Linked DNA regions of Homo sapiens: regions 1, 2 and 3 are each linked to region 4. Evidence: fine-mapped expression QTL. A gene starts in region 4. Each other region holds a variant in brackets. All regions are shown on one strand. Distances are between the middles of the regions. Region 1 overlaps HIP1 (huntingtin interacting protein 1). Region 2 overlaps RHBDD2 (rhomboid domain containing 2). Region 3 overlaps HIP1 (huntingtin interacting protein 1). Region 4 holds the start of HIP1 (huntingtin interacting protein 1).

The links.
Region 1: its variant is fine-mapped to the expression of HIP1 in monocytes after Pam3CSK4 (Quach 2016, PIP 0.95).
Region 2: its variant is fine-mapped to the expression of HIP1 in whole blood (INTERVAL, PIP 0.95).
Region 3: its variant is fine-mapped to the expression of HIP1 in tibial nerve (GTEx, PIP above 0.99).

The regions. Positions count from the first base shown.
Region 1 is chr7:75,624,979-75,627,681 of GRCh38, reverse strand. All of the region lies in intron 1 of HIP1 (huntingtin interacting protein 1), which reads left to right. Among named protein-coding and RNA genes, the nearest start is that of HIP1, 110 kb to the left of the region's middle. RefSeq lists an enhancer at 2,588-2,703. The variant T/C (reference allele first, on the strand shown) is at 1,509.
Region 2 is chr7:75,879,633-75,882,335 of GRCh38, reverse strand. It overlaps RHBDD2 (rhomboid domain containing 2), which reads right to left. Exons shown (of 4, transcript NM_001040456.3): 2 at 100-507. Among named protein-coding and RNA genes, the nearest start is that of RHBDD2, 2.0 kb to the right of the region's middle. The variant C/T (reference allele first, on the strand shown) is at 1,310.
Region 3 is chr7:75,605,986-75,608,608 of GRCh38, reverse strand. The region is part of intron 1 of HIP1 (huntingtin interacting protein 1); the gene reads left to right. Among named protein-coding and RNA genes, the nearest start is that of SPDYE5, 110 kb to the right of the region's middle. RefSeq lists a silencer at 51-251. The variant G/C (reference allele first, on the strand shown) is at 1,442.
Region 4 is chr7:75,737,326-75,740,028 of GRCh38, reverse strand. HIP1 (huntingtin interacting protein 1) reads left to right here and starts at 1,088. Exons shown (of 31, transcript NM_005338.7): 1 at 1,088-1,228. The coding sequence starts at 1,109. RefSeq lists a silencer at 311-1,300.

The DNA of each region.
Region 1 (2,703 bases), 110 kb after region 4:
CAGTTCTCTGGCCATGGCCCTGGGTGTGGACTTGATGCTACCCACAATAAACAAGGCCCTCTCAGCCCTACCCAAGTAACATCAACTGGAACAAGGCTGGAGGTGACAGAGCACCGTGTCTCATGCAATTCTCAGAAAAGTGTGATTCCTATTTTCATGTTCAAGCTGGAGAAACTGAGGCTCAGAGAAGTCAAATCTCAAAGGGCCCCTCACTTTGATCTAGGAACAGTATTTCAGAGTGGTCAAGGCCTTGGGTCCTGGGGTTCAAAATCTGTCTCTACCACTTACCTGGGCAGGTTACTGGGTTCTTTATTCTATAGAGATTTAAGGAAACTCCTATAGAAACTAAGTAGGAATGATTGATTCTGCCAAGTGGTGTAGGAAGTGGGGTGGAGAAAGTGACCATTCATTCATTTATTTGGAAAAGGTTTATAGAGTGCCCTTGATATGCCATGTGCTGTTCTAAGCACTTGCTTCATTGAAGTACACACTTTGGCTTCTCTGTCCCCGAGGAGAGATAGCCTTGAGTGCACTGGACCCTGATGCTGTAGTTTGCCGGGCTGGGGCTCCTGCACACTGAGTACATTTTAATACCACATAGCTGAGGTCATCAGCACCAGCAGTAAGGAAACAGGTAATCCACAGAAATGTTAAACTTCTGCCACTTTTCAGAAAATATGAAAAGGTATAAAGAAAATAAAGATCAAATATTTTTCCACCATCTAAAACTACTGTTAACAATTTAGTGTAGGTTCTTACAGACTTTTCTGTGTGTGTGTGTGTGTGTGTGTGTGTTTGTGTGCATGCACTAGGTTGAACCTTATGAAATTGCCTTTTATATAAGTCAAAAACAGCCAAATTTTCATTTGATTCAATCAAACACAAGCATGTACACACAGACAAATACACACATATTTAAACAAAATGGGGCCATACCATAATACGGTTTTGTAGACTTTAATTTTTGTTTTCACCATGCTGGAGATCTAGAAATAATATATCACAGTGGTCCAGGCCATCCATGGGTTCTGGGTTCATGGGTTCAAAACCAGTTTCCACTGTGTGCTTACCTGGGTGGGCTACTGAGGTCTCCCTTTGCCAGGCTTTCCCTCTTGTACAGTGGGGATAGGCATATTACCTTCCATACCGGGTTGTGGTGAGGGCAGATGAATTACCACATATAAAGTGTTTAGACCAATGCCTTGACATGTATCATTCAGTCAATGTTAGTATCACTATAATTCCAGATGACCAGGGGGCGATGTATCATTTCATTGTGATCTGTCCTCTATTAATAACATTTTCCACTATTGGGGTGAAATCCTTGTGCATTCACCTAAGTATATGTATCCATTGGCTTACTTACTCTTTAAGGACTTAGGCTTTGAGGTTTTAGCTTTCAAGAATTCTTTTTGCTAATGTGTTTCAAGCTGGGTAGTAAGTACAGGGGAAGTTTCCTTGGGCGGCTGCCCTATGGCTCTATAAATTAGGCTTCCAGGTCATGGCCC[T/C]GGTCTTAGTCCATTCTTGCTGCTATAACAAAATACCATAGACTGGGTCTATAAACAATAGAAGCTTATTTCTCACAGTTCTGGGGGCTGGGAAGTCCAACATCACAGCGCCACCAGATTCAGTGACTGGCAAGAACCTGTTCCATAGATGGCATTTTCTCGCCGCATCCTCACATGGCAAAAAAAAAGGTAGAAGAGATGACTGGTGTGCCTTCGCATGCAGAAGAGGTAGAAAGGGCAAGCAGCTCTCCAAAGCCTCTTTTTTTTAAGAGACAGGGATTCACCATGTTACCCAGGCTGGCCTCAAACTCCTGGGCTCAAACGATCCACCTGCCTCAGCCTCTCAAAGTGCTGGGATTACAGGCATAAGCCACCACGCCCGGCCTCCAAAGCCTCTTTTATAAGGGCATTTGTCCTTATAAAAGACTTAATCATTTCCGAAAAGTCCCTACCTCTTCATACCATCACAATGGAGATTAAGTTTCAACATGAATTTTGGAGGGGACACACATATTTAAACTATAGCGCCCCATCTCTGCTTTTCTACTCACTAGAAACAGTGACTGTTCACCAGTCCCCAACTCTGGGCCTTGCTCACTTCTGTGGCTCAGTCATGCTGTCATCTCTACCTGAATGCCCTGGCAGGCCCCCTTTCCACACCAGCTTCTCAGCTGGTTAGGTTGGTTCTTCCTTCAGGCAGCCATCACCAATCCTTAAGCCTCAGATAGATGCCCACACCCCAGGCCTCCATACAGTCCATACCCACCAATCTCTCTCCTCTCACAAGGTGGACACAATGCCATCACTTTCTCCCCATCTAGACCTCACTCTGAAACCAGGACTAAGTCTTAGTGATCTGTGAGTTGACTTAATGCAACACTTGACCGGGTGCTCAATACACCTACCCAGGAGTTTGAGACCAGCCTGAGCAACAGAGTGAGACCCCATCTCTATAAAAACTTAAACAATGGTGGCTTATATTTATAATCCCAGCACTTTGGGAGGCCAAGGTGGGTGGATCACCTGAGGTCAGGAGTTCGAGACCAGCCTGGCCAACATAATGAAACCCCATCTCTACTAATTGTAAAAATACAAAAATTAGCTGGCCGTGGTGGCAGGTGCCAGTAATTCCCAGCTACTCAGGAGGCAGGCTGAGGCACTGCAGTGAGCCAAGATCACACCACTGCACTCCAGC
Region 2 (2,703 bases), 140 kb before region 4:
CAAAGTAAGCCCAATTTTATCTACTTGACACCCCAGACCCTCCAGCCTGGTTCACCCTTTGACATGCGTTGTTCTATAGCTCTCTGCTAGGAAGGATACAGGCCAGCCCGATGGACAGCCCGCAGACATTACTGAGGAAAGAGGTCTGGGGAATGAGCCACGAGGCACCCAGCAGGAGCCACGGAACCAGGACTGAGGGCACAACCATGCCAAACACCAGGGCCCGCCTCATCCGAGAACGGACGGTGGTGACTCCCAGCATGGCAAAGGCCACTGGGGTGAAACCTCTGGCATCCTCCACTTCCCCCAGCTTTGACAGTGATGACACAGCCTCGAATGACAGGAAGATGATAGCGGAGAAGATGGCGAAGATCACGGTGAAGAAGCAGTGGCGGACGGTGCCCACGGTTCTCTCGAAATTGCCAGCAAAGCGCCAGATGATGATAGCGCCGCAGAGCAGGGAGATGGGATTCTCGTAGACAAAGATGTAGGTTACCAGCCTGTAAACTGCAGAGGGAGTCGGGTTAGAGGCCTGGCGGCGGGTTGCTCCCAGGAGGGAAGCCAGGTTATAAGCCGCCTAGGAAAGGCAGAGAGCCCCCCTCCGTGACAGAGAAGTGAGAGCCAGTGAGTCGCAGCAGGAGGCAATACAAGCAGTGCGTTCAACAATGAAGGACCCAGAGCCTCAAAGGAGAGGCATGAATATCTAATCCCTACACTTCCCCAGGCCTGGTGCAACTCTTAGCGGTAACTGACTTCCAGAGGGAAAAAAATAATACTTTTCGGTAGAGGGCAGTCTCTGAATTTGTAAAGTGCTTTATAATCCTTTTTCAGGTTTTCATACTGACCTACCTCACTGGGCAGTTTGAGGGTTAATTAAGTGTAACAGCTTCGGGGTGGATTGAGTGGGTGTCACTTAACACTCTGTGTGCCAGTCTCCTCTGCTGTAATCCTGACCCCTCCTTCCATAGTGGCTGTTCAGAGGAAGAAAAAAGGGACCATGAATTATTTTGCAGCTGTAAGAATTATAACACTATCATTAACAATAAAGATTATAGAAATTATAAGTCTCCTCAGAAAGTGCTTATCCGATCTCACAGGTAAACTGATGCTTTATATGTAATAAGACATCAAAGAATCCTCCTTTTCCTTTTTTTAAATTTTTATTTGTAGAGACAAAGTCTTGCTACGTTGCCCAGGCTAGCCTTGAACTCCTGGCCTCCAGTGATCCTCCTGCCTTGAATTCCCAAAGTGCTGAAACTACACATACGAACCATCATTCCTGGCCTTTTATTTTTCTAAAAGCAGTTAT[C/T]GCCAGGCATGGTGGCTCACACCTGTAATCCCAGCATTTTGGGAGGCTTAGGTGGAAGGATCACTTGAGCCCAGGAGTTCAAGACCAGCCTAGGTAACATAGTGAGACCCCCGTCTTTAAAAAAAATTTAAAAATTAGTCAGGTGTGATGATGTGTACTTGTAGTCCCAGCTACTTGGGAGGCTGAGGCAGGAGGCTCGCTTGATTCCAGGAGTTGAACGCTGCAGTGAGCTATGATTGCATCTCTGCACTCCAGCCTGGGTAAGACGAAGACCCTATCTCTAAAAAAATTTTAGAAGTGGTTATCTCTTAAGTATTTTTATGTCCCTGCATGCCCAAATACGACTAAACTCAAGGAGAGAGACCAAAGAACTGATGGTAATATTGGACTTGGGAGTCTAAAGACTTGGAGTGGAATCTTGGCTCTATTACATCCAGGCTGGCTGAGTTTAATCATGTCACAGGTCCTCTAGGCGTCAGTTTCCTCACTGTAAAGTAACAAGAGTTAGATTGAGGACTTCAAAGGTCCCTTACGTCTCTAACGCTCACATATCCACGAAACCCACACCCAGGGAAGCAGTGAACCCCAGAAAGTGGGAGGTTAAGGTTAGGTTGGCATTTTGCTTCTGTCTGTGAGGTGGTGCTATGTATACCTAGGGTGGGGGGAACAGTTTTAGATTGGAGTGGGGAAGCAGGCTATGGAACCATATACCTCAGTCTGGCCATCACCAGAGGCTTCATTATCTGAAGAGTACTTCATTATTTGTTGAGTATTTCCAAAACTGAAATTCCAAGTATAAACATGAAAAGATTCTAGAAGCAACTGTACATGATTTGGAGATTATCTACCCGAAGGCTCTAGTTCCAAAACATCACAGAATAAAAAAAAAAATATAGATTCCTATCTCAATTGCATGACGCAACAGCTCTGCGATTCTCTGCATGAAACCTCAATCTTATCTAGATAACGGGCCAATAACAGGTCCTACGTCATGGGATCCTTGTGAGGGTTAAACGAAATTAATACATATCAGTGTGTGTGCTTTGCAAAACAGCAGGAGATATGCAAATTTCCTGTGTTCCTCTCGAGAAAATGAGGAAGACACGGAGACTAGGAATGTCTTTCAGGAATGGATGTTTATACTTAATTGGTCTGCAAAATTTCTCTCCCCTAGAGAAAAACAAACACTTCTCTCCAAAGGCAGAAGACACCCTGGTACCCCCATGAGCTGGGAATGGCAGTCAAGATTAAGATACAGATGAAAAAGCAGAAGAAATTCCAAATCTCAAGAGGGCAGGACGTTTATAGGGCTTATAGGGGTTTGTGGATAAAGTCCAATTGTCGTGATGTAGGTGAGAGAAAAACGTTTTTCAGTGGGGCTTAGGCCTAAAGCA
Region 3 (2,623 bases), 130 kb after region 4:
GTCACGCTTCAGAATACTGATATTTCTCTAAATTTTCTTCAGATCTTAAGTCCATTTCAATCCAGGTCACTCTTTTTTGGAAATGGTCCAGCTTGTTAGTTTCCTTCATAATGTATAAAGCCTGAAACTGAATAGTGTTTCACGCATGGCCTTATCTGTGTAGAGAACTGGAACCATACGTTCCCTCCTTTTAATGCATCCAGAGAGATCAGACTTGCATGTTCATCAACCGTATCAAAATCTTGCTATTATTAAGTTAGCAGCCAAATAAAACACCTTAATTCTTTTTTTTGTTTTCTTTTGAGACGGAGTTTCTCTCTGTCACCCAGGCTGGAGTGCAGTGGCGTGATCTCGGCTCACAGCGTTCTCCGCCTCCCGGGTTTAAGCAATTTTCTGCCTCAGCCTTCCGAGCAGCTGGGATTACAGGTGCCCACCACCACGCCCGGCTAATTTTTTGTGTGTTTTTAGTAGAGACGAGGTTTCACCATCTTGGCCAGGCCGAACTTGAACTCCTGACCTCGTGATCCACCTACCTCAGCCTCCCAAAGTGCTAGGATTACAGGCGTGAGCCATGTGCCCAGCCAAAACACCTTCATTCTTTTCACAAGTGCTGCTTTGAGTCACGGCTCCCTTGTGCCAGTGAGTTTAGGCCTAAGTATAGAAAATTTCCTTTGTACCTACTGGATTTCATCTTGTGAATTTTAATGCATTTTTCCAGTCTGTGGATTCTGATCGTGTCTCTGTGGTGTAGAGGGCCTTGTCTAGTGCCGAGGTTGTGATCCTGAGCCTGAGCTTGGTCACACTGCAAAGACTGAATCCCCGCCCTACACTTGCTGATGTTACGGGCCTGGGCAGTTTACTTAGCAGTTCTTTTTTTATTTTTATTTATTTATTTTAGAGATAGGGTGTCACTCTGGTCCCCAGGCTGGAGTGCAGTGGCGTGATCATGGCTCACAGCAGCTTCAAACTCCTGGGCTCAAGTGATCCTCCTGTGATCCTCCTATCTCAGCCTCCCAAGTACCTGGGACTACAGGCACGGCCACCGCACTTGACAAATTTTTTTTTTTTTTTTTTTTTTTAGGCTGGGCATGGTGGCTCATGTCTGTAATCCCAGCACTTTGAGAGGCCAAGATGGGCGGATCACCTGAGGTCAGGAATTCAAGACCAGCCTGACCAACATGGTGAAATCCCATCTCTACTAAAAATACAAAAATTAGCCGGGCTTGGTGGTGTGCACCTGCAATCCCAGCTACTGGGAAGCTGAGACAGGAGAATCGCTTGAACCCAGAAGGCAGAGGTTGCAGTGAGCTGAGATCACACCACTGCACTCCAGCCTGGGCAACAGAGCAAGACTCTGTCTCAAAAAAAAAAAAAACAAAACAAAAAACAACTCTTTTTTTTTTGTAGAGATGGTGCCTTACTGTGTTGCTCAGGCTGTTCT[G/C]AAACTCCTGGCCTCAAGTAATCCTCCCACCTAAGCCTCCCAAAGTACTGGGATTACAGGTGTGCACCACCACACCTGGCTATTTAAAAAAAAATTTTTTTTTAGAGATGGGGTCTCGCTCTATTGCCCAGGCTGGTCTCAAACTCCTGTTCTCAAGCAATCCTCCAGCCTCAACCTCCCAAAGTGCTGGGATTACAGACATGAGCCACCCCACCCAGGTTTACTTAGCCTTTCTAAGCCTAAGAGATCTCAGGTACCTTGGTTTCTTCATCTGCAGAATGGAGCTGATTAATACTATTAAGTGTCTACTGGTAGGTTGTAGAGTTGTAAGACTTTATATAAGATAATTCATACAAAGGGGCCTGGTCTAAGCACTCATTAGTGCCATCAGCTTGATAATTATCACCACCGTTACCGCTAGTTCACTTCCTCATTCTTTTAAAAATGGCTATTTCTTACCCAAGAGCCGCCTGGCCTCATTGTTCATTGTTCCTTCGGGTCCTTTTCTTACAGTGTCTCCCCAGCTTGTGGCCCTTGCTGCTATCCTCCCCTCATCTAGGTCCAGAGCCTCTGCATCATCTTTTTTTTTTTTGAGACGGAGTCTCACTCTGTCGCCCAGGCAGGAGTACAATGGCGGGATCTCGGCTCACTGCAACCTGCACCTCCCGTGTTCAAGCAATTCTGCCTCAGCCTCCCAAGTAGCTGGGATTATAGGCATGAGCCACCACACTCAGCTAATTTTTGTATTTTAGTAGAGATGGGGTTTCACCATGTTGGCTAGGCTGGTCTTGAACTCCTGGTCTCAGGTGATCTGCCCCCCTCGGCCTCCTAAAGTCTCTGCATCATCTTGGAGGCACCATGGATGCATCCTTCTGCTGTCTCCCTGTAACCCGGAGCTCCTATCTGCCAGTCCTACTGAAGCTCGTTTTACAGCTCACATTATATTGGGTCATTTCCATTCTCACATCTTTCATTTTGATTCCATTTTTCCTGTACTTTTATGCTATTAAATAGCTTCTGGCTGGGCATGGTGTCTCACACCTATAAGCCCAGCACTTTAGGAGGTTGAAGCAATAGGATTGCTTGAGGCCAGGAGTTCAAGACCAGCCTGGGCAACATAATGAGACCCCGTCTCTATTTAAAAAAACCAACTAGCCAGGCATAGTGGTATGTGCCTGTGGT
Region 4 (2,703 bases):
CTCCAAATGAAACCAAAAAAAAAAAAAAAAACAAACAAAAACAAAAACAAAAACACACCTAAATTGGAGTTTAACGGAAAACTTTTAACTTTCTCCAGCACTCCTGCTAAGCATCACACTTCTCTCTGCTTGCTGGTACCCTGGCTGACGTCTGAGCAGGATGGGACGCGCGGCTCAGAGCCTAAGATAAACCGAAAGTGTCTACAGGGCTTTCTACCAACAAATAAGCTCTGACGGGTTCCTTTGATGAGGTTTGGGAGGCAGGTCCCGGGAGGTGCCCGCGGACTCAGCCCCGAACTCCGGGACCTGGGCTCTGCGATCCTTGCAGAGGGCATGGGCAGGGGCAGAATGGAGAAGTGCAGGACGGGGAAGCCTGGGAGCTGGGTGGGGGCGGCCACCCATTGAGCCGGATCCGGCCAGGCGCCCACGCTGCGCCCCGCCCGCGGGGCTGCGCTTTCCCGGGCTGCGGCCGCAGGGCTGGTCAGTCCGGCGCTCCCGGGTCCCAGGCCCGGAAGGAGCTAACGGGCTATTCGCAGGCGGGCTGGGATTCCCCCGGGGGAGGCCCCACTGCCCGGCCCGCGTCATCCCCGCCCATCTCCACGGGCCGTCGCGGGATAGCCCCCTGCAGGAGCGGGCAGGGTAGTGGGCGGCGCTTGGCGGAGGGCAGCACGCTCGGGGCGCGCGGGGACTGCGGCCGAGGGGAGGAGAGGGCGGTGCGCGGGCGGGGGCGGGGCGAGCGAGGGCATATCAGGGCAGCCCGCCCAGGCCACGCCCCATCCAGGCCTCGCCCCGTCCGCACCCCGCCCCGGCCCTGCCTAGAACGGCGGGACCACGGTGACTGACAGGACTCCAGACCAGTCACCACGCGCCTCGAGGCCCCGAGAGGCTAGTCGGGGCCGAGCCAGCGGAGGGGCTCCTGAAGGGGCGGGGGCGGGCGGGGAAGCCGTTCGGCGAGGGGCGGGGTCTCTGGAAGACTGGCAGAACTCACAGCCAATGGCAGGCGGGAGCCGTCCCGTTAGCGCCGGATCCCCGCGGGTAGGGCGGGGCGGGCGGCGCCGTGGGGATCCCGGGGCAGCCGAGGGCCCCTGACTCGGCTCCTCGCGGCGACATGGATCGGATGGCCAGCTCCATGAAGCAGGTGCCCAACCCACTGCCCAAGGTGCTGAGCCGGCGCGGGGTCGGCGCTGGGCTGGAGGCGGCGGAGCGCGAGAGCTTCGAGCGGACTCAGGTGAGGACGGGGGACCCCGGGGCATCCCTGGGGCACCCTGAGGGACGCGGTGTCCGGGAGGGGCTTTGAAGGGAGTAGGAGTCTTGCAGGCCCCAGTTGAAGACGGGGCGAGGGTGTAGTGAGCGGGGGCATTGACGTGCAGATCTGGGCGATCCCAGGAAGGTCGGGGACCCCAGGGTACCCCAGCTGGCCTGGGGAGAAGGGCAGAGGCGGGCTCGGAGGAGATGGCAGGATGCGTGGCCAAGAGGAGCCTGATCGGCTGGGTACCGGGCAGGAGTCCCAAGATGAGGTGAGAGGGGAAGGAACTGAAAAGGGGCGGAATGGAAGGGTTGCCCCTAAACAAGGGAAGCGCACGGGAGCCACTTGGAGGCTCAAGTGTGGGGGCGGAGAGTGGGGGCGCCGGGCTGGGAATGTGAAGGGTGAGGGGACCTCTCTTCCCCTCCGATCACTTCTTGGTTGCATTGACATCCCTTCCCACCCCCCACCCCTTAGCATCCCCCTTTCTCGATGCCTCTTGCTTGGCTCTGGCCAGCCCCAGCTGTCAGCTCTGAGGCCGGGCGGAAGGGGTCGGAGCAGGGAAAAGGAATGTAGGAAATGCAAAGTGTGGCCACTTTGTGGGAAAATTACTTTGGGGGCTAAAGTGGAGACCATGGTGCCCCTGAGCCCTGACTTGGGGTCTTGGTTTTATCCCCCAAGATGTGCCTGACAGCTAATAGGCAGACTGCCCTATTTGTCCTGCCTGGCCAGGGCTTGGGGCCAAAATTCCTCAGTGTCATCAACAAAAAGCCACAATCCATTTTTTTCTCCGAGTTTTTAATGCCTGGTGTATTGATTGGGCTGAATTAAGCTGACATGTTGATGGTGTTCATCAATTCATTTGTATGTAAAATCCATTTCAAAGAGTACAACGCTTCTTTTAATCCCAGTGCCAATGCTGGAGGGGCAGATTTCTTCTACACTCTTGTGCTCAGAGTGGAACCTTTGAAGATCCATTTGGGTCCCCCTCTCCAGAGGCTGGTCCCCTGATGTGTTATGCGAGGAATACTTCCCCCAAACACAGTTGGAGGGAAAGGGCTTTGGGATTTTAGTTAGAAAAGACAGTGAGAATCTGACTGAAGGTTCTGTATATGGAATCTTTCAAAGAATAGAGCTTTTGGCCGGGCGCGGTACCTCACACCTGTAATCCCAGCACTTTGGGAGGCCGAGGCGGGTGGATCACCTGACGTCAGGAGTTTGAGACCAGCCTGGCCAACATGGTGAAACCCTGTCTCTACTAAAAATACAAAAAATTAGCTGGGCGTGGTTGCAGACGCTTGTAATCCCAGCTACTTGGGAGGCTGAGGCCAGCAGAATTGCTTGAATCTGGGAGGTGAAGGTTGCAGTGAGCCGAGATGGCGCCACTGCACTCCAGCCTGGGCAACAAGAGCGAAACTCCGTCTCAAAATAATAATAATAAAAAAGAATAAAGCTTTTCA